2 separate regions of the Homo sapiens genome follow, and region 2 is linked to region 1. Evidence: fine-mapped expression QTL. A gene starts in region 1. The other region holds a variant in brackets. All regions are shown on one strand. Distances are between the middles of the regions.

Region 1 (11,582 bases):
CACTCAAGGGAATCAGTGGTGCTGGTGTTGCCAGGTGAGTGACTGTGTTTGTAAATATTCACCTGGCAGGAGGACTCAGGCATGAACAAGCCACCTAACATGAACTAGCCACCTCCTCCTCTCTTCCTGGAATATCCGACATCTTTTTCTCCAGCACAGACCAGTTCAGAATACCAAGTGGTAGCTAAGGCTAAGGAAACTGGAACTTCCTCCCACCTCAGCATGGCCTCTGCTGATTTAGGGCAATCCAGCATGGGAGAGAACAGGAAGAAAGGGGCCCTGGTGGGAAATATGTTGGCTCCAATGTGGTGGGGTGGCAGAAGCAAAGCCCCAGAGCACAGTCACTGTGGAACTGGCCCTGGGGACCCTGACATGGCTCCAAGAACTCTCTGCTGGTCCAGCCTCCTAACCTCAATACTCTAGGCTTCATTGTCTAGCTGGATACCCGACCACTCCTCTCTACCCCAACGGCCCCAGGCCTGACAGCCACCACCAACCACAGCCCAGACTCCCATACCACCCTCTCCATAGGTCTCCTTGCTCTAACAGGTGCTTGCCCTGTTACCAAAGTTATTTCCTGATATGTAGATAGGATCATGTCATGCCACTGCTCAGAAACCTTATCTGGCTTCCTATTGCCTTAGGACCAGAGTCCAAACTAATGCTCACACTGAGGCTCTCCATGATCCTCGGATTCTTCCCTCCCCTTTGAATCACTCCAGCTTCCTCTGTATCAGCCTCTCTAATAGGGGTTCATATGATGGAGTTCTGGGCCTCTGCAAACTTCTGAGGTCTTCAAAACGGGTGGGGAAGCTCAAGCCCAGCCACCAAATCATCAAAGAATCTCCTCAACTCCAAGTGAAGAGCTCTGAAAAGAAAACTACAACCTCTCCCAGGGCCCAGGGACCCTAGCAAACGAGCTTGGGAGAGGACCCAAAGTGGGTATTCTGGGTATTCCGGTGCTGAACTGACCTGGGTCCAAATCATGACTCAGTCTCTTGATAGCTGTGTGGCCTTGGGCAGGTCACTTTGCCCCTCTGGGCCTCATCTCAAACAAGCTCATGGACAGAGAGTGCAGTGCCAGGCATGTAGTAAGGGAAACACTTAGTAGATAGCAAGTAGCTGAAGCAGTTACTCCATCTCTTTGCAAGCCAAAGGGGCTCAAAGACAACTTGCACAAGTAGATGCATTCACACCCTACCTTTCCAGCAGGCTCCTGGCACTGAGGAGGCGGCTGAGCTCGTCCCACTAGAACCAGCCTCCCTTTATAGGGCCTGTGGGGCCCAGGGAAAGAAGTTACCACATCTTGATCAAAGCACAAAAGTGGCGAAGGCCCTGCCCCGAGTCTGCCCTCCTGGGGACAGTCGATGGCAACAGCCGCCTGCTCTGAGAAGCCGGGTGGTGGTAGAGCCGTTAGCAGTGGTAGCACAGGCTCCCTGGTGGCTGTGGGAGCAGGTCTGGCAGGGAACAGGGCACACAGCAGTTCTGTAAGGAGTTGCTGGCCCCTCAAGGCCCCCGCCAGCCCCACCTCCATCTGCATGCAGGGCGGTGCTGGCTCAGATCAGCTCAGAGCCAAGCAACCCAGCCTTAACCCTCACCCTGCCAGCGTGCCAGAGCCTCAGCTTACACCCCCCTGCTTTTCCCCTCACCCCACCCTGTTTGCAGTTCTGAAAGGGAGTTTGCCAAGTGGGTTTCTTAAGAACAAAGTCTCCTTACACATCCATTTGAGACAATGATTAGGGCCAGGCCTTTGCTGTGGGCTTGGGACTGCAGTGAGCATGAGTTTATGTGTGTAGGGGGTGGGGGGTGACAGGAAGTAGTGGGGAGTAGGGGATGGGGATGCTAGCTCTCTGGCACTGAGGGCGACTGTACCATCTACCCGGGAGATTCTGCCTCCAGCCTCTCCCAGGGGCTGCCTCTGCTCCCCACCCCCACAAGGTCACAGCCAATCTACTTGGGAAGAGGAAAGAAATGGCACAGTTCCAGATAAAACATCTGCTTAGGGATGCTCTGGGGAGTGAGGACACTCTGGACCAAGGATCAGAGCCAGCAGGTGGAAGATAGTGGCTGATCTCCACCACAAGACCCCAGGGCAGCACACCAGCCCTGCTCTCATGCCTGCACTAAGAGATACTGTTGCCTAGTTTGCATGGGAATGGTCACCCTGGAGCCAGAACCCACACCCTTGCCTATTAGGACCGAAGCTGAGCTCTGAAGTCCTGCAGCACCTCTGCCAGACTGAGAGACTGAGGTCCCAGGGGCTCTCGGGGGTCTCACTACTGCAAGATCTGTGAGGCTTAGGGGTGTGGGTGGCTACTTCCATAGCATTTTCACTACTATTTCCATGGCTAACATGTGGCTGAGCACACAAGTATGATCACTGCGTATTTTGAATTGGACACTCATTCTGATCATAAGGTAGACAGCTAGACTCATGGTGGCACCTGCTAATAAGTAAAAGACAAGTCTAGGCCACAGGAGCCAGCTTACTACCACCCCCAGGCCCTACCCACATCAGGTGCTTCTGGGCAATTACGAGTCTGCCTGCACTGGGCCACTGTCCACCCAAATTTAACCCTGCTCCCTTGCTGCAAGAATGTCCCAGGACAGGACCCAGTGCTCTGAGCTCCCTCTTGAAAGCTGTTTGCCCAATTGCCTGGCAAGTCTAGAGCCCACAGGCTTGCAACACCTTCCCTGGAGCAGATAACAGCTTCCACTACTCACCCTACCATCTGGGTGAGCCATGAGAAGAGCGTCCTGCCTCAGCGACCCTCATCTGGAACTTGGCCCTAGCTTCCCCCAACCCACCCCGATTAAAATGAACGAATATCTGAGCACCCCCGATCAGCCCACAAAGTCACTTCACCTTTCTTCTAGGCAGGACCCTTACTTTTCTCCAAATATCTTCAGAGATGCTTTTAATATGAAAGCTTCCTTTAATGCTTCTCAAGGCAGCCTCTGGGGCAGGAAATCCAGTGGTCTGTGGGAAATCCCACAGAGTGCCAGAGGCATAGAGCTGAGGGAGTAGTTTCACCCCAAGCAGTGTGCAGCCCAGTTGCCAGGTTGAGAAATGCACAGCCTTCACCATCACACATGTACAACCCTGACCTGCAGAGGTGCAAACACAGCAGCGCACACTTGCCCAACACCTGCCCTCTCCACACAGGGATTCAAGCTTCTCTCTGCTGTGAGAGAAGGGTTTGCTCTCCATTTTCCTCTTGGGTTTTAATTAGATTCACAGAACCACATAAGACCAGGGCAGAAATGGAGCAAAGAGCCTCCCTGACTTGGGAATTGCCAGGTGGGACCCACTGTACATCCCCCATGAGATAGAGGCCCAGGATACGATACGGGGTTGCCAGGTTACATGGTGGCTCACCTGCCAAGCTTCCCCAAGGAGCCTGATCATAGCTCTGATGGTTCAATTAAGCCCCTTGAATGTAGAAAGGCCCAGCTAAGGCTGGCTGTGACTGAGTACTTTACAGAGCCACCTGTTGCAACTAGCCCAAGCTCACTGTGAGCATGCCTCCCTTTAGCAGCCTCCACTGCCCGCTGGCCTCCCCATCCTCATGACAGTACCTCTCAAAAATCTCACTCACCCTAAGCCCTGCTCAGGGAATGTGGGTCCACATTCCTGATGCTAGCACCAGGAAGCCAGGCACAAACAATGCTTTCAGGAACTTTAAAATATGAATAGCCTTGAGAACAGAGGAGCAAACAGATACACAGTGTCTTTCACACGCTCTGAGATAAACGTTGCCCTCACCATGAATTAGGCAGGACAAAGTTCTCAGAGCAAAGAGGGACAGCAGGGGCTAAAAAAACAGCAGTAGTCCCTTTGGAAATATTTACAGGGTATGATAACCAGGACTGATGGTGTGGACGAGTTCAGATCCTTCCACGCCAAGCCCTGGGACAGCAGGCAGGACCCTAGGAATACTGACCAGGGTCACCATCACCTCACAGGCACAGGGACACTCCCTGGCCAGGCCCTCCTGTGCAGGAAGCCAAATCCTGTGGCTGTAACACGATCCTTTGCCTTTCCGGCCATGTCCACGTTAGGACTGCTGGTGTCCCGGCCTCAGGAGCAATGATTCATTTCTGCCACTGGCTCAAACTTAGGACACACTGCAAACTAAGCTTGAACCAGTAAAGGGCATATGGGCTGCTCATGGCGAGGCCATGCACTCAGAGCTCAACTGCAGGTGGCTGGGGTACAAGCAGGATGGGATGCGACCTCCTCCAGCTAGAGGGAAGCTCCTTGAAGTAGGGAGGGTCCTGCCAATATATGGTTGGGGGTCACTGAGGTGGGGGGAGCAACAGAGGGATTTGCTTGCCTGCTTGTTCACTTAGGAGCCCTGCTGGTCTCCTGGGGACACGTGCTAGGGGAGAAATGCACAAAAGACAGAACCTGAGACATCCTTAGCCAGGGAGGGAGAACAAGGAGAGGATCCGAGCTGGGTGGGAAAGGGTAGAGAACAGGGCTATCGAAGAGGGACAGAAGTGGGTTGGTAAGTCACAGGAAGAGCCTGTAAGATGTTGGGGCCCCTGGCAGGAGCCCTCACACAGTGGCGGGAAGGAGGCAGAGGCCTGTCTGCACTGAGGACTGGGGCAGGAAGCTGAGGCTGGCAGGATGGCACTTAGCTATGGGAGAAAGGAAAAAGATGGTGATGGGTACTGTATATCTGCCTCATGCCTTCAGAGTCACAGCCCACAAGCTAATGGCACTCAGCCCTGGGGATGCAAAAGTGCCCCAGGCAAGCTGTGCTCCTACATCCTTGGCAAAGGGATTGCTGCTGCAGCCAGGATCCGGCATGGCTCCTTCACCTACCATTCCAGAGTCACTGAATTTTTTTGTAGACTAGAAAGTGAGCAAGACAAAAAGAGTTTTGCCCTTGGTTAAGGGCACATTTTCTGGCAAATTTGGTAAATAGCTGAATATTCTGGCATCCCCATAGTCTGACAAAATTCCTCTTCTGAATGCCTCAAGAAGAAACAAATCTGAATTTCCTCCAGTTTAGCAAAAGGCTGTGCTGGTCAACGGGAATCTGCCACCTCCTGAATCCCCCCTCTGGAGGTCAGGCGGCACAGCAGCTGCAGCCTTAAGCTGCTCTCCCTCCGGCAGCAAGCGGTCAAGTTCTGCTGTTGGCCTGTGAGAGCCTACAGTGTCCACAGAGTTAACATTAGACTGGAGCGGCCCAGCCCTCAGCGGGCAGGAGCACTGGGAACTCAGGCCTCCTTTTCAAGGCCAGGATGAATGGGAAATATGCAAATGGCCGCCTCCCAGGAGCGGCAGGGGAGGGCCTGCTGCTGGCAGGAGGGCATCACTCCACTTGGGTCTGTCACATGAAAGGGTTTGTATTCCTGCCGCTGGCCGGCTCCTGGCCAGGCTGGGGCTGTTCTCACCAGAAAACAAAAATGTCTTTCAGACCAAAGCAAAACGAGGCCCCAGCTGGCCCAGGCAGGCCATTGGGCGTTGTTCACACTGACCCACTATGAACACCAATCACTGGGGCTCTCACTTTGCACCCACTGGAAGGAACCCATCATCTTTGGAGACGGAACTGGAGGCCTCGGTGGCTGCTGAGGAAAGCACTACGTAAGTTCGGGGGGATGGAGGTGGGATCCAGAAAGAGGGTCAGCCCCCTCTGAGGCTCTGTTGGTTTTGTGCTTTTCGAAAACAGTAGTGGCGGAATCTGGAGTAGCACCCTTTTTTTGGATAAGGAAACTTCAGTTATTCTCACAGTGTTGATGGTAAACATGGAGAAAGAAATGGGAAGAAAAAAGTGCTGGTACACAAGAAGACCCTGCAGTGCACAGAGAGGACTTTCAATAATGGAGGGCACGTGTGTCCTCTGCCTGGTGCCCACACTCCTGCTGCCACAAGTGCCCTCGAGTGGGAGGTGGGGATAAGGGCAGCCCAGAGCCCCATGTGCGGGATCACTAGCTTCCAGGGCTGGGGCTCCTTCTTCAACCAAGGCTCCATGCCAAGGTCAGGCTTCTATCCTTTTTTTTTTTTTTTGGCTGACTTTCAGCAGCCAGAACACTGCTTCTCTGACACCCCATGGTCACCAGGAGCTGCCTATTAACCACAGCACAGACCTTGTGCCCTGTGGAGCATGGATGCCACTCAGACTCCCACTACCAGGAGAAATAGCACAGCAAGATCTCAAGCACACATGTGGCCGTTGAGCCTGAGAGGACATCTAGGACAAAACCACTTTGGAGTTGATTTTGAACCAACAGGTGGGTTGGTGGATGCTCCACAGATCTCCTGAAATCCAAGGGAGATATGTCTTGTCAGCCTCTGGGGCTAAAGGAAACTGGTATTCGTTTGGGCCACACAGTATCTTCATGAAGCCAAGGTGCCAGGCATGTCTCTGTGAGAGGTCATGGAACTGTCCAGGGAGCAGAAGCAGGAGACAGAGGAGACAGGACACTTCAGAATGACCTAGAAAAGTTGGTTCCACAGGTCATAGCCTTCCATATCTGGTCTGTGGCAAGGAGATCGGGGACACATGCACCCAAATCCCCTACCAGCCTACTGGATGGGGGAAGGCCCAACCTCCATTTCTCTCTAAACCCTCCCTGCCACCACAGACAGACCTAGGCTTAGGGGAGTTGGCCTACAGAATATGCATGAGTTGGCTGGGCATGGTGGCTCACACCTGTAATCCCAGCACTTTGGGAGGCTGAGATGGGTGGATCACCTAGATCACCTGAGGTCAGGAGTTTGAGAACAGCCTGGCCAATGTGGTGAAACCCCGTCTCTACCAAAAATACAAAAAAATTAGCCGGGTGTGGTGGCAGGCACCTGTAATCCCAGCTACATGGGAGGCTGAGGCAGGAGAATCACTTGAACCCAGGAGGCAGAGGTTGCAGTGAGCCAAGATCACGCCATTGCACTCCAGCCTGGGCAACAACAACAAAGCTCTGTCTCAAAAAAAAGAAAAAAGAAAAAAAAATGCGTGAGTTGAAGGTGTCCTCAGAGAATCACATCCAGCCCATCTGCTGGAAAGCACAGTCACGATGAACACTGAAGTTCTCCAGCCACTAAGCAGGGTCCTGGGGTCTATGTGGCTTCATGCAGCATCAGCTCTAGTGGCAGGGCAGAGTGGCCAGAGCTTCCCTTCCAAAGCAGAGGGGTCACTGCAGGCCTGGATGGGTCTCCACTGAGTCTACTTTCTCCATACTGACAATTGTCTTCCTCTCACTGGCCTAAAGGCCTTAAGGCCTTACTCCAGCCAACCTCCCTGTCCAATCTCACTGGCCGGCTCACATGCCACCTTGCTGATCTCTGTCCCAGCTCTAACTGTCCTTGCTGTGTAGCCTCTAGCTGCCCTTTCTATCCAATATCTAGTTGACCTCACTGTCTCTCCCAGTGACATTTCTGCCTGTTTATGAGGCAGGATCTGCAGTCAGTATCTAGAATGGTCTGCAGCAAAGCTAAGGCTGGGACAGGGGTGCGTGGGCAGGAGGAGTCCCACGGGGGAGTCTCAGCCCCTACAACAGTCCATGAGTTGGAGGGAAAAGCAGAGCTTTGTAGCAGAGCTGAGTCTTGATCAGTCCCTTGGAATCCACATCCTGCACTGGTGGGCCAGGCTGTGCTGAGAGTGAGGCGGGGTCCCAGGCACTGGTCAATAGGGTCTGTCCCAGAGCTGCCCAGTCAACCTGGGCCTACCTACTCACTCATTTCTCCAATAGCTATCAATTACTAAGTCTGTTCCTGGCCCTAACAGGTGCCAGCCCACATTTGCTTATACCAGGGGCTGAGCACTAAGATGCTGATTGTTCCCTCACTGGCCTGGCTTCCTGCTCTAAATTCCCAGGAGACAGTGATCTCGGAACACAAGCTTAAATGGGCAGATGGCAAATCAGAAGCCATTCCCAACTCCCCCAGACGCCCCTACTACATGCCTGGCTTAGGTGCAGGGAGAGGAAGGGTATCTCTGGGAAGAGCTGGCAAATAGGGTCAGGTGAGACTTCTTGGGATTTGAAATCCTTCTGGCTCTGAGAGTATTGGTTGGGTCTCAGAATAGATAGCTCGGCTTGGCTTGAAATTTCTGTTCCAATCCACTTCCCATCTTCCCATTTCTGCCTGTCCCAGGCCCCAAGATTCACATGAATTAGGAGCTACACAAAGGAAGTAGGCCCAGGAATAACCACACCTACCACGGATCTCCCGAGGCAGCCGAGCAAATGATGAGGAACCACCCCTGGGCATCCTGAAGGACAACCCCAAGGGCTCAAAGCAGCATCTCATCCACAGCACTCCCCTAACCCCACCAATCTGTGGACCCAGTGGATGGTTAGTGGGAACTCTGGCGAGGCCAACGCAAGGAATGGGAGCATCACACCAGACCATCCAGTGAGGTGAGGACCTTGACTGGGAATTCCTCTCATCTATGCTTGGCAGAGTGGCCCAAGCTCCCAATCTGTCAGGTGACTGGAACCTTGGAGCTCTAAGGAAGCAGCAGCCCTCAGAGAAGACTCTCTTCCACAAAACTGGTCACCCAGAAGCTGTGGGTTCACTAGTTGATTCATTCATTCATTCAACAAACACTTCTGGAGCACCTCCTTCTATTCCAGGCTGCACTGGTTCTCAGCACACAGGGTTCTCCAGTGAAGGGTAACCTGGCCCTGCCTGCAAGGAGTTTACACCTGCTTTTCCCTACTGCTTCTAACATATTGGCATCATCCCCCACCTGGGCACAGAGCCTAGCATCCTAGCAGGAGCACACTCAAAATCTGTTGTTTACTGATTGACTTGTGGTAAGGAAACAGCTTATAAAACACATTATTAAAATAAATTACGCTCAGGGAATTCTTTAGTTTATGCAATAAACTCTTATGTACCCTGTGTGCCCAACTCTGGGTTGGGGACATAGACATGAGACACCTGGCCCTGCCCTCAAGGAGACCATGGACTTGTGGAGGAGGCTTCTGGAGCACAGGAATAGTGTCACCTTGGTCATCCACATGCCCAGTTCTACCCACACCTCCTTGACATAACCGCTGCACAGAATAAAGCCAATGCTGTTTGGCCTGTTATCCTAGGCCTGCAGAGCCCACCTCTGGCAACCTCACTGGCCCAGCAGAATTGGTCCTTCAACTTCATTCAGTCCTATTGCCAATCTTCCCTCACACAGGTCCCTTGGCCTGGAATGCCTTTTCTTTTCCTACTCCCTTTCTGCATGTCAGAATCCTGGATCCCCTTTAAGGAAAGCCTAATACAAGTTATTATAATTTTAGCTAACATGGCTGGCTGATCATGCCTGGTGGTCCCTTCCTGGACTGAAAGTCTGAGAATGTGGCCTGACTCACAGCTCTTACAAGTTGCTTCACCACTGAACCTCGCTGAGTCTCAGGGCCTCACCTAGGCAATGGGGAGAACACAACACAGTGTTGTGGGAGGATGGAAGGAAAGTTTGGAGAATCATAGACAGGGTGCTTGACACATGGTAGGTGCTCAGTGAAACAACAGCCAAGTCAGCCTGTTTGCAATAGTTAATCCCATAAAAACACCCCTCCACACACACCTAGTACTTAATGAGTATTTGAGTGCCTACTATGTGCCCAGTGCTGGCTGGATACACAGTGTAGCTTCTGTTATACAAAAGCCTGTAACTTTTGCCCATTTTTATAAACAAGCCAGAGCCTCATGATCACTCACCCCATGTATGGGACAGTCCTGAGTCCCATCTGGGGCTGTAGCTGAGCCAAATTCAGCCTTCTGAAGGTCAACCCATGAATCCTTATAACCACAAGGGACAGAACAATAGCTGGAGAGCATAATGACTGGGTTCTGCTGCCCCCTGGTGTCAGTATGTTCTTACCATATAGGCTGGAGAGCTGTGAGAAGGTGCTGCGGGCAAAATCCTGCTCCATGCTGGTGCACCTTGTACAAATTCAGGCTTTCTTTGTGAGGCATGTCCCCAGCTGGCCACAGAGCCACCTGTTCTGCCTGGAGCTCTACCATCTGTCCCAATTCATAACTGCAATCTCCAAACCCCTGGGGTGGCCCTAGACCTCAAGTCAGTTCTCTGTCCTAATGGGAGCCCAGAGTGGGGTAAGGGGAGGATCTCACAGGCCTGAACTAAGCCAAAGTGTGCAAGTCTATGCTTGCCCTAGGCATCTATAGCCAGGAGCATGCCAAACCATTCTTTAGACGGGCAACTTTGTCTCGCCCCACCAGGGCCAGCCCCACTTCTCCTAAGGCAGAGGCCAGGGGTGGGGGCTTATCTCTTCTCCTTACTGGAGCCCAGCCATGACTCAAGCCATCCTTGGACCACATCTATTCTTATCCATAACATCATAACGACCTCCTACTACCCTCCTGGACTCCACTCTCTTCCTCTTGACTCAGCAGCTAAATGGAGGGATCCTCTACCATCCAAATAAAACCTTCTCCAGAATCCTCTCCCACAACCCACATTGCTCAGGCACAAGACCTTGAAGACTCATCCCCCATTGCAGTTCTTCCACAAACTCTGCTAGTCTGGCTTCCTCCACTTGGATCTTGGCCTCCCTATCTCTGACAAATTCCCCTGAATGCTGCAGAAGCCCACTCATATGTCACTGATGGTTGGGTATATGATTGAACAGATTAGACCCTGCGGCATGGGGCTGCCTTAGCCTAGAGGAAGGTGTGCCCTTTTAGAAAGTTATCCACCAAGAGTGAGACTTCTTCCTACTTTGCACAAAGGTGCTGTACAGGCAGGCAGAAGCTCTGATCCTCTGCTCCCATTGTCCTCTAGGTGTTTATGGCACTGAGGGCATGCTTCCCCAAGCCAGACCTAGCATCTGACTCATGCTGGACTTATTTTACTTGTCTCCTTGTTTAGTATTCAACACACAGGTGAGATCTGGGCTGGCCCAGGACTCATTGCTGGCCTCTCCAGCAGGCAACAGGACAGACACAGCCCAGAACAGATGGCTACCTCCCACAAACAACAGTCAGCTCCTCCTCCTGGTGCATTGCCACACCCCCATCCCCGACTTTATGTCATCTCTCCCTGAGGGCCCTTGAGGGAAACCCTTGCCTGGCCCTACCTTGTCTCCCTAGGGCCAGGTTAGGTGGCAAAAAGCACATAACTCTACTAAAGAGAGACATTGCCTCCTGTTACTGGCTGAGTGGAAGGGATCTGGCAGCTGCCGTGGGACCATGGGACCCTGGAGATGACAAGGCAGAGCATGTTCTCAGGTGTGCTCACAGAACTACAGCTCTTAACTCAGGAGTCTCTTCTGCCACCAGAGAAAGGCTGGGGGCCAGGTGGAGTCTCAAGGAGGGTGGATACATAACTTAAAATGCCCCAGCAATTGTCTGGGTTATTCTATCCAATAAGCACCATAGACCAGCCTCAGCCTCTTGCTTTTTGCATTGGGAAGCTCGGCCTCTGTGGAAGCAGCCACTACCTGCCCCAAGAATCGCTCCTGCTTGACGGTTCTGAGGCCCTGTATAGTCTCTCAGTGAGGCAGATTCCCCAGTTTCCCATTAGAGGAGGGAGCTGACCACTTTAGGAAATGCTCCACAAGGAAACAGGACTCCACTTTGAGTCAGTGCCAGCTAACCCTGCTCACAG
Region 2 (11,582 bases), 220 kb after region 1:
TCCTTAGCCTCAGTCATCACCCTGATCTGAGCCACCCCTAACTTCCCCTACAGGCATCCTGGCCCCCACTACACTGGCCTCTCCACATGTCATCTGGCCTTCCTCCCACCTCTGCTCTACAAAGTAGCCAGCATGGTTTATCAAAGCCCTCCTTTGGCTCTCTACTGCCGTCAAGATAAAGTTCAAACTCTTTAGCCCAAAGGGTCCTTTTGAGTGTGTGACCAGGCCCTACTGCCCTCTCTAGCCTCATCTCACCATGCCAGGTTTCGTATCTTCAACAACTACTTTATGTGAAAAAATATTCTCCTTCACGAAGAACCTAATAAAGCCAAGATGTTTATCTGTATCTATCCACATACTTTCTCAGTCTGGTACATGAATAGTGGTTGACTTCCACTTCCCCACCTGGGTACCATCACCACCACAAAGTCTTGCTTCAGTAACTAGACAATGAAGTAGCAGAGAAGGCTGTTAAAACTGACATGCAAAAGCCAAGTTGGGTTTTCAGTCATAGTCTTGGCAGAGACTTGGCAGTCTGGATGAGACTAACCCACAAAAGGGAACTACACTTGAGGATAAAATCCATATACCACTATATTGGATGCATCTTACGTCCCACCTTGCAACCTCTTGGTCTCACCCATCTCCCAGGTCCCAGGGTATTTACTTTGCCTCAGCCCAGTGGAGGAGACTATCCAGGCCCACGCCAGAATCTCTGGCTCCTCTCACTATCTCCAGACTCTGTTGAAGTACCAGACTGGCCTCCCCAGTGGCTACCAAAGGGCCCTCATAGGGTAACCAAGTACATCTCTGTGCAGAGTAGCCAGCTTGCTAAAACACCACCTCCCATCCTCCTTTATACCTCACTTTTTTCTTTTGTTTTTTTGAGACAGTCTCGCTCTGTCGCCCAGGCTGGAGTGCAGTGGCACAATATTGGCTCAATGCAACCTCCACTTCCCAGGTTCAAGGGATTCTCCTGCCTCAGCCTCCTGAGTAGCTTGGACTACAGGTGTGTGCCACCATGCCCAGCTAATTTTTGTATTTTTAGTAGAGATGGGGTTTCACCATATTGGCCAGCTGGTCTTAAACTCCTGACCTCAGGCAATCCATCCATCTCGACCTCCCAAAGTGCTGGGATTATAGGCATGAGCCATCGCACAGGCCTGCACCTCACTTTTGTTTTCCCTCACCCTGGCTGCCCTGCAATTACACCTTCCAATAAAGCATTAAGTACTTAAGCTCTGTCTCAGGCTGTTTCCTGGGAACATAGTCTGAGATAAGCACTATTTGTTTCCAAAAATCTTTCATTTCTACTATCTAATTCTCACCCAAACCTTCTAAGCTAGATAACTACCTCCATTTCAGATATAAGATAGATACAAATGACAAACAGCTGAGGCTGAGAGAAGGTTTCCTACATATCTGACATCTGACAGCAAATCAATGACAGAACCAAGAGTCAAACCCAAAACACACTCTGCTAGATATTGCAGCTATCCAGTCCTACTCAATAATCTGTTACCTTAAAGTGCAATGGACTCCCAAACAGGGAAGCCACACTTTGCCCAGGAAGAACATGCCTGCCCAGGTTAAGGACTTTATCATGGGTTACACCAAAGGTTCATAAAGCAGGTCCATGACACGCCTGGCTGGATCTCACCAGAGGGAGGAACGCAACATGGACCCAGAAAACAGCAACATGGTCCCTTAAGTTCAGATGGGCAGTCACTCCTACCTTAGACATGACAGCACTCACAAATAACCAGCCAGTCCAGCTCAGGGCAAGGCAGTACAGTCAAATGGACAGGCACACCTGCCCTAGGGTCAGACATACTAAGAGTTAAACCCCAATTCTATACCACTTCCCGGCTTTGTGACCTTGGACAAGTTATAGGATTCCTCAGTTTCCCCATGTATATAATAGAGACAATACTAGGACCTATATCTCATAGGGCTGTTGGAGGACTGAATGTGATGACAGATGTTGGCAGGTAGCCCTGCACTAGGCATAATTTATGTCAATCATTAGTACCAAGGGCACCAGAGAAACATCAGTGGACCTGAGGCAGCCAGCTGCCCAGCCCAAGTCAGCTGATTCCTGGGTGAGAAAGAAGGTCCAGACTAGGGAACAGTGAAGATGCAAACAAGGCAGAAATTGGGCGATCTCCATGTTCCAGGAGCACCACAAGAAATGAAACATTTAATTCAGGAGAGACTGGAATCAGGTATAATGTAGTACATTGATCATCAGGGGATAACCCTGGAACTGGTCAATCACTGGCTCTAAAGCTCATCAAGCAATGTTCTCTAGCAAAAGGCGGGGGATTGGACCAATACTCTAGGAACTCATGTACTTATATGCCTCTGACCTGCTCATTCCAGGCTCCTACAAGTACCCAGGCCTGAGGATCTCCACTACACCCTGGCCCTCAGAGTGCCAGGTACAAAACAGGCCACACTCTAAGCAAGCACTTCCTGAAAGGTCCAGAGCAGATGCTGGCCTGTTACCAGGCTCAGATAGATTCCATCTGAGCTGGAGAGCACTCTACCCAAACACTTAATCCTCTGCCCTGCAATGACACCAGCTGAACAAGAACTCTCTTCTAGGGCTCCAGTAAATCATCCAGACTTTTCATTCTCCTCTGCTCTGAGGAAAAAAAAAAAAAAAAAAAACTGTCTTTCTATCTCTCATTCCATGTCCGTAACACAAAGCCCACAGACCACAGGACCTTCCAGCCCTCTTTGCTCTAGGACAGGCTGATGTCTTACCCTAAGGAACTTCAAATGTCCAAATTGCTAGATGTGAGCAACTTTCCCGAAGTTTAACTCTCACTCCAGCACTCTGCTGGGCTTGCATGTACTTGCATCACAGCTTTTCCTGCCAACTTCCATCTGCATAATAGTAAACTCTTGACAGACCCCAGGAGCCAGGGACACACCTCCTAGCCCTCTGCACACTATCAGCCAGCGTGGCCACACATCAGCCAAGGCCTTGCTTCCAGTCTCAGACCCTCCCAAGGATGTGGGAGGGCAGAGTGAAAAAGGGAGGCCTTCTTAGGAAATGAGGAGACCCTAGATTCCCTCAACCGACTCATTCCTCAGAGCTGCACCCACGTAGTCTCTTCCTTTGATGAGCACTCACAGCCGGGCTCCTCCCCTGGCACATGGCCAGCTGCCAATATGAAGCAGCAATCTCAGAGTACGAGCTACCCACAGGCAAGAATAGTGCCTCGGCCACCTCCTCTCTCTCGTCCCTCATTCTAGCCCCAGGCACGCTCCAGTCAGAAGCCAAACAGGCAGAAGGCACTCAAGGGATGAACTGAGATCAGCTGGGGCCAGTCTAAACCGGTGACTAAGTAAGCACTGTCTAGAGTACCCCAATGCAGAGCTTTCGACAGGATACAAGGGCCTATCACATGCCACAGACAATGCCTCAGCTAAGCTGTCACCAAGTCTGCCTGCTGAGCTCTCAGAGAACTAGGGTGATCCAGTATGACAGCATCTTTGGGATGAGGCCCCCAGCCAACTCACTCCATCCTTGCTACGTGGCTTCATTGGCTGGGCCACACAGTGGACACTCGGCTGTGTAAGAACAAGGAGGCCCTAAAAGAAAAGAATTCAAAGACCAAACATTCTGTGAGTGGGGAGAAGCAACCAGAGAGACTGGGCGCTGAGGCCCAGAACCACAGTGAGAGGCTGCACCTTGGACACCTCAGGGGCAGTTTAAGTACAAGCCAAAGGAAATCCTAGTTCATTTAACAGAGACTAAATTATGGAACCTAATGTCAGATGAGACACAGGCTGAGAACAAGCAGCAGACCCCAAAAACATCCTATAAATTCTTAGGTGGACAATGGATCTCCACAAAGTCTGGGACATTTAAGAATGCCCCAAGCTACAACGTAACGGACTCCAGCCCTTGCTCCTAGGACAGGATTTCCTACAAGAGGGCTGGGGCTGTGAGGCCCCAGGTAGTCTATTATCAAGAAGCACAAATCTCGGGTGTCACTCTACAGCAAAAGACAACAGTCACAGTCTTGGGAGGGATCCCAATGCTCTCCTGCACCATCTCTCTTTTTTATTTTTTTTTTAAGATGGAGTCTCGCTCTGTCTCCCAGGCTGGAGTGCAGTGGCACGATCTTGGCTCACTGCAACCTCTGCCTCCCAGGTTCAAGCGATTCTCCTGCCTTAGCCTCCCGAGTAGCTGGGACTACAGGCGCGCGCCACCATGCCCGGATAGTTTTTTGTATTCTCCTGCACCATCTTAAAGTCAAATAGAATACAAAGGCCAGGGACCCACCTGGGCTGTCCAGCAATACCTGAGGCAGGAAGTGCCCTGATCCAGGCTCCTGCTGCGAAGGTCAACTGGGCATCTTACACATGCAGGGCACAGTACCAGGCACGTTATCTCACTCCAGGGTCTTGTAGACAGCGTCCGTGGACAGCTATCCCCTACAGTGTTCCTTCCCCATCACCTTGCTTCCACTACAAGGCCATAAGGAATGGCATTGGCCAAGGTCTCTGCTCCCACTCACATAGGCTGTTCCTCTGTCCACGATGCCCTTTTGCCAGCCTTCCTCTGACCACTCCAGCTCATGGGTCACCTCCTCCGGGAAGTCCTCTGGCCGGAGGCAGTCAGTGCTCTACCAAGTACCCACTGCCCGCATTCCCTTCCAGCACAGCGCTCACCACACTGCTCTGGGCCAGGACCTTCCCGCTCTTCCAATCCGCCTGTCCCACTGGGTTAGCAACTGCTTGCGGTTTCTGGCACACAGAAGGGTCCCGTTTGTTGAATTAGTTAACGAATTATCACGGGTCTCCGCAGCTGCCAAGGAAAAACAACGCTGGTTCCACAAGGATGTCTGGGGGAGAAAAGACTTTCTGATCCAATGGCCCATCTAATGGGCTCCAAGCTGGACCCTGCCCGGACAAGACCTAGGACTCCCAGCCCTTGGGAGGGTGCAGAACGGGCTTAGCCAATATGAAGAGGCCCCTCAGGGCCAGGCGGACGCCGCGCCCCCGCTCCCAACAGCCGGCAGCCCGGGGTCAGGCCGCCACTTCCCGGGAGCCTGACAGGGAAGAGCGGCCAAGTTCCCAGCCCCGCCCGACAGCCGAGGGAACTGCACGAAGGGCGCCGCTGACCTCACCACCCTGAGCTCGGGAAGGCTTGCGGGCGGCGGCACAAGAACCCAGACGGGTGCAGAAACAGGGCGGAGGGTGCAGGGTGGCGGCCCGGACTGCGCTGCTGGCGGCTAGCGGCGCGACCCCCGGCCCCGGATCCGGCCCCGGCCCCTAACTCTCAGCCCCGCGCGGGCAGAACGCACCGCCTGGCGACCCCAGCCCGCGCCCCAGCGCTAAGGTTGATCTGGCGGCTGAGCGGGCGGGGCGCTCACCTGGACACTCGCAGCTCCCGGCGTTTCCAGAACCTCCCGCGGCGTCGCCCGGTCAGCTCGGCGCCTCCTCCCTTGGCGACTCCGCCTC[G/C]GGCCGCTGCCGGGGCTCCGCCCACTTGAGCCGCCGCCACGTCCCCACCTCACGCTCCACACGCCTGCCTGCGTCCTGGTCCCCAGCTCCGGTGGCTCCGCCGGGGTTCGCCGTCCTCTGCGACCCCTGGGAACGCCCAGGCTACCCGGCCTCGCGGGAGCCGGAGCCGGAGCCGGAGCCGGAGCTGGCCGCCCGCGCCCTTCATGCCGCCCGCAGCCCACCGCACGTACTCCGCGCCCGCCTGGCTTTGGCGCCCCCACCTGCGGGCCTTGGCCCGCCCTCCTGCCCAGCCCCTGGGCGTCTGGAGAGGTCGCCACGACCCGATCCCCTCGCCGGGGCTGTAGGGAGAGCGTCCCTGGAGGCTGACGGATTTCCCTGCCTGCGCTCATGCCCATTGCCTGGGGGGCCCTGCCGGGTACACGGGCCCCTTCTTCCCAGCACCACCACAAGGAGGCTGTTACGGGAGGCTGGGGTCACCCCGGCTAGGAACTGGGTATCAGGAGAGGAGGCAGAACAGTGGAGAAGACCCTGAGGAAGACTAGGGACCTGGGGCCCACCCCCTGGAGACCGAGATTGGGAGGCCCATTCCCAGGGCCGAGCTCTCAGTGGGTTTCAGAGAGTCCCGGGCTCTGGTCCAGGCAGTCCTGGTGGCATGTGCAGGGGTGATGGATTGATGAGAAGGGGGCCCATCAAAGGCTGGGTGGGGGCGGAGGCGGGGGGGCGGTAACAACCTGGGGCACACTGGGTTGCCCAAACCCTTCTTTATGCCATGGGCCAAAAAGAGTGGACACCTGGTTCAGCCAATCCAGTCTGGAAGGGAATAAGGACAGAGATGCAGCAAACCTCAGCCTGAGCGGGAGGAGGCCCTGGCGGCCAGGCAGGTTCCCACGCCTGCTCTGTGAACCTTCCTCTCATGAATGAGGGGAAGCACGGTCTGAGAATCTCATCAGGGAGCAAGCCCAGAGCGGGAGATGCCCAGCCTCCGCCCAGGCCCAGTGTGGATATTCCCTACGGCACACGGGCCAGGCAGGCGGCCCAGACCTGGGGAAAGCAGGAGCACGCACACGGAAATACACATAAAACATGGGTGAGCCATTGTTCCTGCCTGCGTCAGCCACCGGCTCGAGCCCGGCTAAAACTACACAAACCCTCCTGCATCTGCTACATCCACAGAAGCTTCCTTCCATCTCCTCCCCCTTCTCAGGAGTTTGCCCCATGGAACATCCCTTTTCTCTCCTGAAGGCTCAACTACCCGCTCTCAACTGGATCTTTCCCATTGGCCTGTAAATGTGTTCAAGCCTCTACTATGGGAACAAAACCCTCATTCGACCCCACTGAGTGTCTCTGTTCTCAACCGCAGCGGAATTTCTTGAAAGAGCTGTCTCCCCATCCTCACATCTCTCCCACTCTTCAGGCCCTAAAGGAGCTGTCTCTCCCACTCTTCAGGCCCTGCAGTCAGCCTTCTAGCTCCCTAACAGCACCAAACCAGGTCTCAATAAACTGTAGCCTCCAATCTCCAATTTCAACGGCTGTTCTTCAGACCTCATCTGCCAGGGCCCTGAGCAGTGTCTGACACCCAGCGATGACCACAGCCCCTCTGGAACACTGATTTCCCTTGGTTTCCCCTCATCCTTTCTGGCCACCTCTGCTCAAGCTTCTTCAGCATCCTCTCCCTATTAGTAAAGGTTGGGGGTTCCTCAAAACTCAGGTCTAGGCTTTCCACTTCACGCTTCTCTTTACACGCAGGTGACACAAATTTCTCTCTTTACCCTTATCCTTACTGCTGAACCCCAGATTCATGTAACTCACTGTTCAGTGTACATCCCCACTTGAGTGTCCACAGGCACCTCAATGGCAACATGTCCAACACAGAGTTATTGTTCTCCCCCTACATCTTCCCCCTCCACACATCCTGTCTTCACTGCTGTACTGAAGGAGATACTTCCCATCAGTTACCTAACCAGAAGCCTGGGAGTCATACTTGGCAGCTCCCTCTCCCTCATCCCCAGACCCTATTTACCTATATCCCAAGTCTGTTCAATTTTACCCCTAAATCTCCCTCTAATCCACCCACTTCTCTCCATCTTTTTCACATGAGTGATGGCAACACTTTCCTGACTGGCTGCTCCTCCATTTTTGTTCCCTCTCATCTCTCCTTCACTACAACCATGATGATCTCAAAATGCAGATCTGAGCCCATTACTTGCAGCTGGGAAATTGCCCTGATCTTGAGAAACATCAAAAAGTGGTTTATAAGGTTCCACATGGTTTGGCCTCTGCTCACTTCTGTAACCACATCGAACTTCCTCCAGTCTCTCTAACTGGCCATTCCCCCTCCCCACCCCAGACCTTTATACATGCTGTTCCTTCTGTCTAGAAAAAATTTTTCCCTCCCTGATTAAAACCTTCAGAATCCTTCAGATTCCCTCAGAGGCAGAGAGATTTTCCTTACTTCCCTGAGTAGGTCAAAACCTCCCATAACAGACCAGGCACGGTGGCTCATGCCTGTAATCCCAGCACTTTGGAAGGCTGAGGCGGACGGATCACCTGAGGTCAGGAGTTCGAGACCAGCATGGCCGACATGGTGAAACCCCGTCTCTACAACAATACAAAAATTAGCTGGGCATGGCCAGGCACGGTGGCTCACGCCTGTAATCCCAGCATTTTGGGAGGCCGAGGCGGGTGGATCACGAGTTCAGGAGATCAAGACCATCCTGGCTAACATGATGAAACCCCGTCTCTACTAAAAATACAAAAAATTAGCCGGGTGTGATGGCGCATGCCTGTAGTCCCAGCTATTCAGGAGGCTGAGGCAGGAGAATCGCATGAACCCGGGAGGCAGAGCTTGCAGTGAGCCACGCATGATGGCGGTGTCTGTAATCCCAGCTACTAGGGAGGCTGAGGTGGGAGAATCACTTGAACCCAGGAGGCAGAGGTTGCCGTAAGCCAAGATCGTGCCATTGCACTCCAGCCTGGGTGACAAGAGCAAGACTGTCTCAAAAAAAAAAAAAAAAAAACCACACACACAAAACCTCCCATAACAGCTTCTCATGTCCCCGTGTGCTTCGTAACACTTGCCACCGTTGATAGAATTGAATGATCGCTTGGGTAACGTCTTCCCCGACTGGCCTGGGAGGTCTGGGAGTACATAAACCATGCATGCATTTGTCCATTGCCATTTTCCCACCACCGAACTGGGCTCAATATTTGCTAACTCCTTGAATGGACGGATATCTCCTCAATACCTTGCTCCACACTGTAAGATTTAGTCTCCAAAGGCATGAGTAAGACCTCCGCAGGGTCTTGGAGTCCTGGCAGCTCAGGACCACAGCATTGGTCAGATATCCTCCTAAAAAATCTGCAGCCTTGAGAAGGGGCAGGACTTCTGAGGATCATGTCTCCTTGGTCTTCCTGCCTTGCAGGAAGTGGCCATTCATTTGTTTTTATATTCCTTTTCCTCTACCTGCCTCCACCCAGAAGATACCATTTCTGACCTCTGCCTTTGTAGCCTCACTTTCACCACTCAGCCCTTAACATAAGGCCCTCAGACTCCATCTGGGCTCCTGATCTATTCATTTCCTGGGGTTGCCACAACAAATTACCACGAACTAGGTGCCTTAAGTCAACAGAATTTTATTCTCTCACAGTTCTGGAGGCCAGAAGTCCAAAATCAAAATGTTACCGGGGTGTGCTCCCTCTGAAGGCTCTAGGGGCGAACCCCTCCTTGCCTCTTCCAGCTCCTGGTGGCTTAGGAGTTCCTTGGCTTGTGGCTGTATCACACGAATCTCTGCCCCATCTTCACCTGCACTTCTCCTCGGTGTCTGCATCTTCTGCCCTTCTGTTTCTTATAAAAATAACTGTCATTGGCTGTAGCGTCTACCCAGGTAATCCAGGGCAGATTGGGAGGTCTACCCAGGTAATCCAGGGAGGTTTGGCACTGAAGCCTCCCTGAATGCTGATGACTCTTGCAGGCCCTGGAACCACTGCAACAGCTCCCTTAATAACCTGTAACTTAATAATATCTGTAAGGTCCATTTTTCCAAATAAGGTCACATTCACAGGATCCAGGTAGTAGGACATGAATGCAATTTGGTGGGGTTGGGGGGCACCATTTAATCCACTACATTTGACATTCCTCCATGCCCTCAAAGGCTTCTGGACCCATGTAAATCTATCACTCAGTTTTGAATCTCCAGCCTGGGTCCACTCCAGACCCACATCGTCACAGCCTTTTCTTTATGACCACTTGATAAGTGAACTCATTGTCTCATGTAGGGTCCCCCAGGTTCCCTCACTTTTTTCTCTCTCCTGACAAATACCAAATGCCTTGACCACTCTATGACCCAGACAGCCGAAGGTTTTTTCCTGTAGGCTTGAGCCCAAGCTGGGGCCTTAAACATTCCCAGGCACTGATAAAGGTGTTTAGATGGTCGCCCGAAACACTGAAAGAAACTAGCCCCGACCCTGAGCCAAATTCCTTAAAATCTCATATAAATTCCATACCCAGACCCCCCTTGCAGCAGGCATACCTAGATAGAACATCCCTGTCTCGCTGTCTGCCTACAGGATGTACTGCAGCCCCCTCAGAGACCGAGAAATTTCCCTAATAAATGCTTTGGACTGATCACCCTGGCATTTAGTGCTACTTTCTTTGGAATCCCAACCATTTCAGGATGGTTTGGGGTAGTCCCGTATGGGGACCCCCCTGCCACTGCTTTTGGGGCATCTCCAGCTGCAGGTTCAGCCAGGATGAAACATCTCCCCCATACCACAGCCCACACCACCCAAACTGCTTCTGCCCCAGCATTTCCTACATCTCAGCAAATATCACCATCTCCCAGTCACTTCCCTTTTCTTTCCCACTGCATGCCCACCCTGGAGATCTTACCTGGTGGATCTCTCTCAGTTCACTTACTTCTTCCCAACCCTGCTGTCGCAGACCAAATTCAGGACACCACCATCTCTCACTTGGACAATCCATCTTAGCCCACTTTTCTACTCCGCTCCCTCTATCCTTACTCCATTACACAGGGCAGAGTGACATTGTAACCATGTGATTCCCATCATGTTATTTCCGTATAGAACCTCTCAAAGGTATTCCATGGACCCAAGGGTAGACACAAATCTTGCCAATGCTGCCAATCCCTTTTATCCAGCCCTGATGGTCTCTCTTCTTATGCACAGCCTCAAACTTGATGCTGCAGCCACTCCAGGCACTTTTCAGTTCCCTGGCCTTTGAATGTGTTATTCCTCCTGCCTAGAACATTCTCTTCCCAAAAGGTGGTTTCTTTCAAAAGGCTTTCTGGGTCTAGCCTGAGCCAGATCCTGCCATAGGCCCCAAAGCTCCTCATGGATGAGTTTCACACATGCTACCTGACCTCATTCAATGTCTACTTCATTTACCATTTGGCCCTCCTGGGGACTGCCTCTAACCTGTTCATCACTGTGTCTCCAGCTCTAGCATAGGGTCTGGCGCCCAGAGCCTAGAGAGGAATTGGTGAACAAAAATACATGAATGAATGAGTGGACATTCCCACTATTGTGGCCTCTAGCAGACCTCATTGAGTACACCCAGTGTGTGTCACTTAATGAATCCACAACCATCTTTAACAGCCACACATCACAGCATGTTATAGAGATTCACATCCCTTCTCCCCAAATCCATTGTATGAACAAGGCCATACCTCCCTTCTGGAACAGCTCTATGGTGTTCATTTATGTGTTCACTCAACAAACATTTGCTGATCACCAGTTGAGGTCAAGGCGGGGGATTCAGGGACCACACATATCAAAGGGGCTCTGTCTAGTATAAAAACTAGTAGATAAGCAGAGGCCCGCCCAGCAACTTTGTCTAGGGAGGGAAAAGCCCAAGCCTTTCCAGCTGGGAAAGGCTACTAGTAGGAGGTACTGCCTACCTAGACCCAGTCTTAGAGACCCTTCCTAGGCTCAAGATCAGGCATGGCCTATGACCTTTCACCCCAGCATGGCCAGGGCATTGCCAAATGAGGCTCTACCTCCATGCTGTCCCTAGGCAATATCCCTGGCCAATGGCTCCTTGAAGCAGTCTGGACTTGTCTGCCTGCCATCCCCACCCCGAAGGA

Alleles and levels. Positions count from the first base shown, and alleles are read on the strand shown. Sizes are in standard deviations (SD) of each study's normalised expression.
For the expression in hippocampus of the gene that starts at base 5,361 in region 1, allele C in region 2 goes with a lower level than allele G (small effect, 0.35 SD a copy in GTEx).

The links. PIP is the estimated chance that this variant, and not a neighbour inherited with it, causes the effect.
Region 2: its variant is fine-mapped to the expression of ACSL6-AS1 in hippocampus (GTEx, PIP 0.98).

What each region holds. Positions count from the first base shown.
Region 1 is chr5:131,998,213-132,009,794 of GRCh38, forward strand. ACSL6-AS1 (ACSL6 antisense RNA 1) reads left to right here and starts at 5,361. Exons shown (of 2, transcript NR_183256.1): 1 at 5,361-5,599; 2 at 8,108-8,824. The region is part of intron 1 of ACSL6 (acyl-CoA synthetase long chain family member 6); the gene reads right to left. RefSeq lists an enhancer at 3,542-4,137 and a silencer at 9,758-9,877.
Region 2 is chr5:132,222,397-132,233,978 of GRCh38, forward strand. It overlaps P4HA2 (prolyl 4-hydroxylase subunit alpha 2), which reads right to left and starts at 5,457. Exons shown (of 15, transcript NM_001017974.2): 1 at 5,394-5,457. RefSeq lists silencers at 5,174-5,433, 5,574-5,803. The variant G/C (reference allele first, on the strand shown) is at 5,482.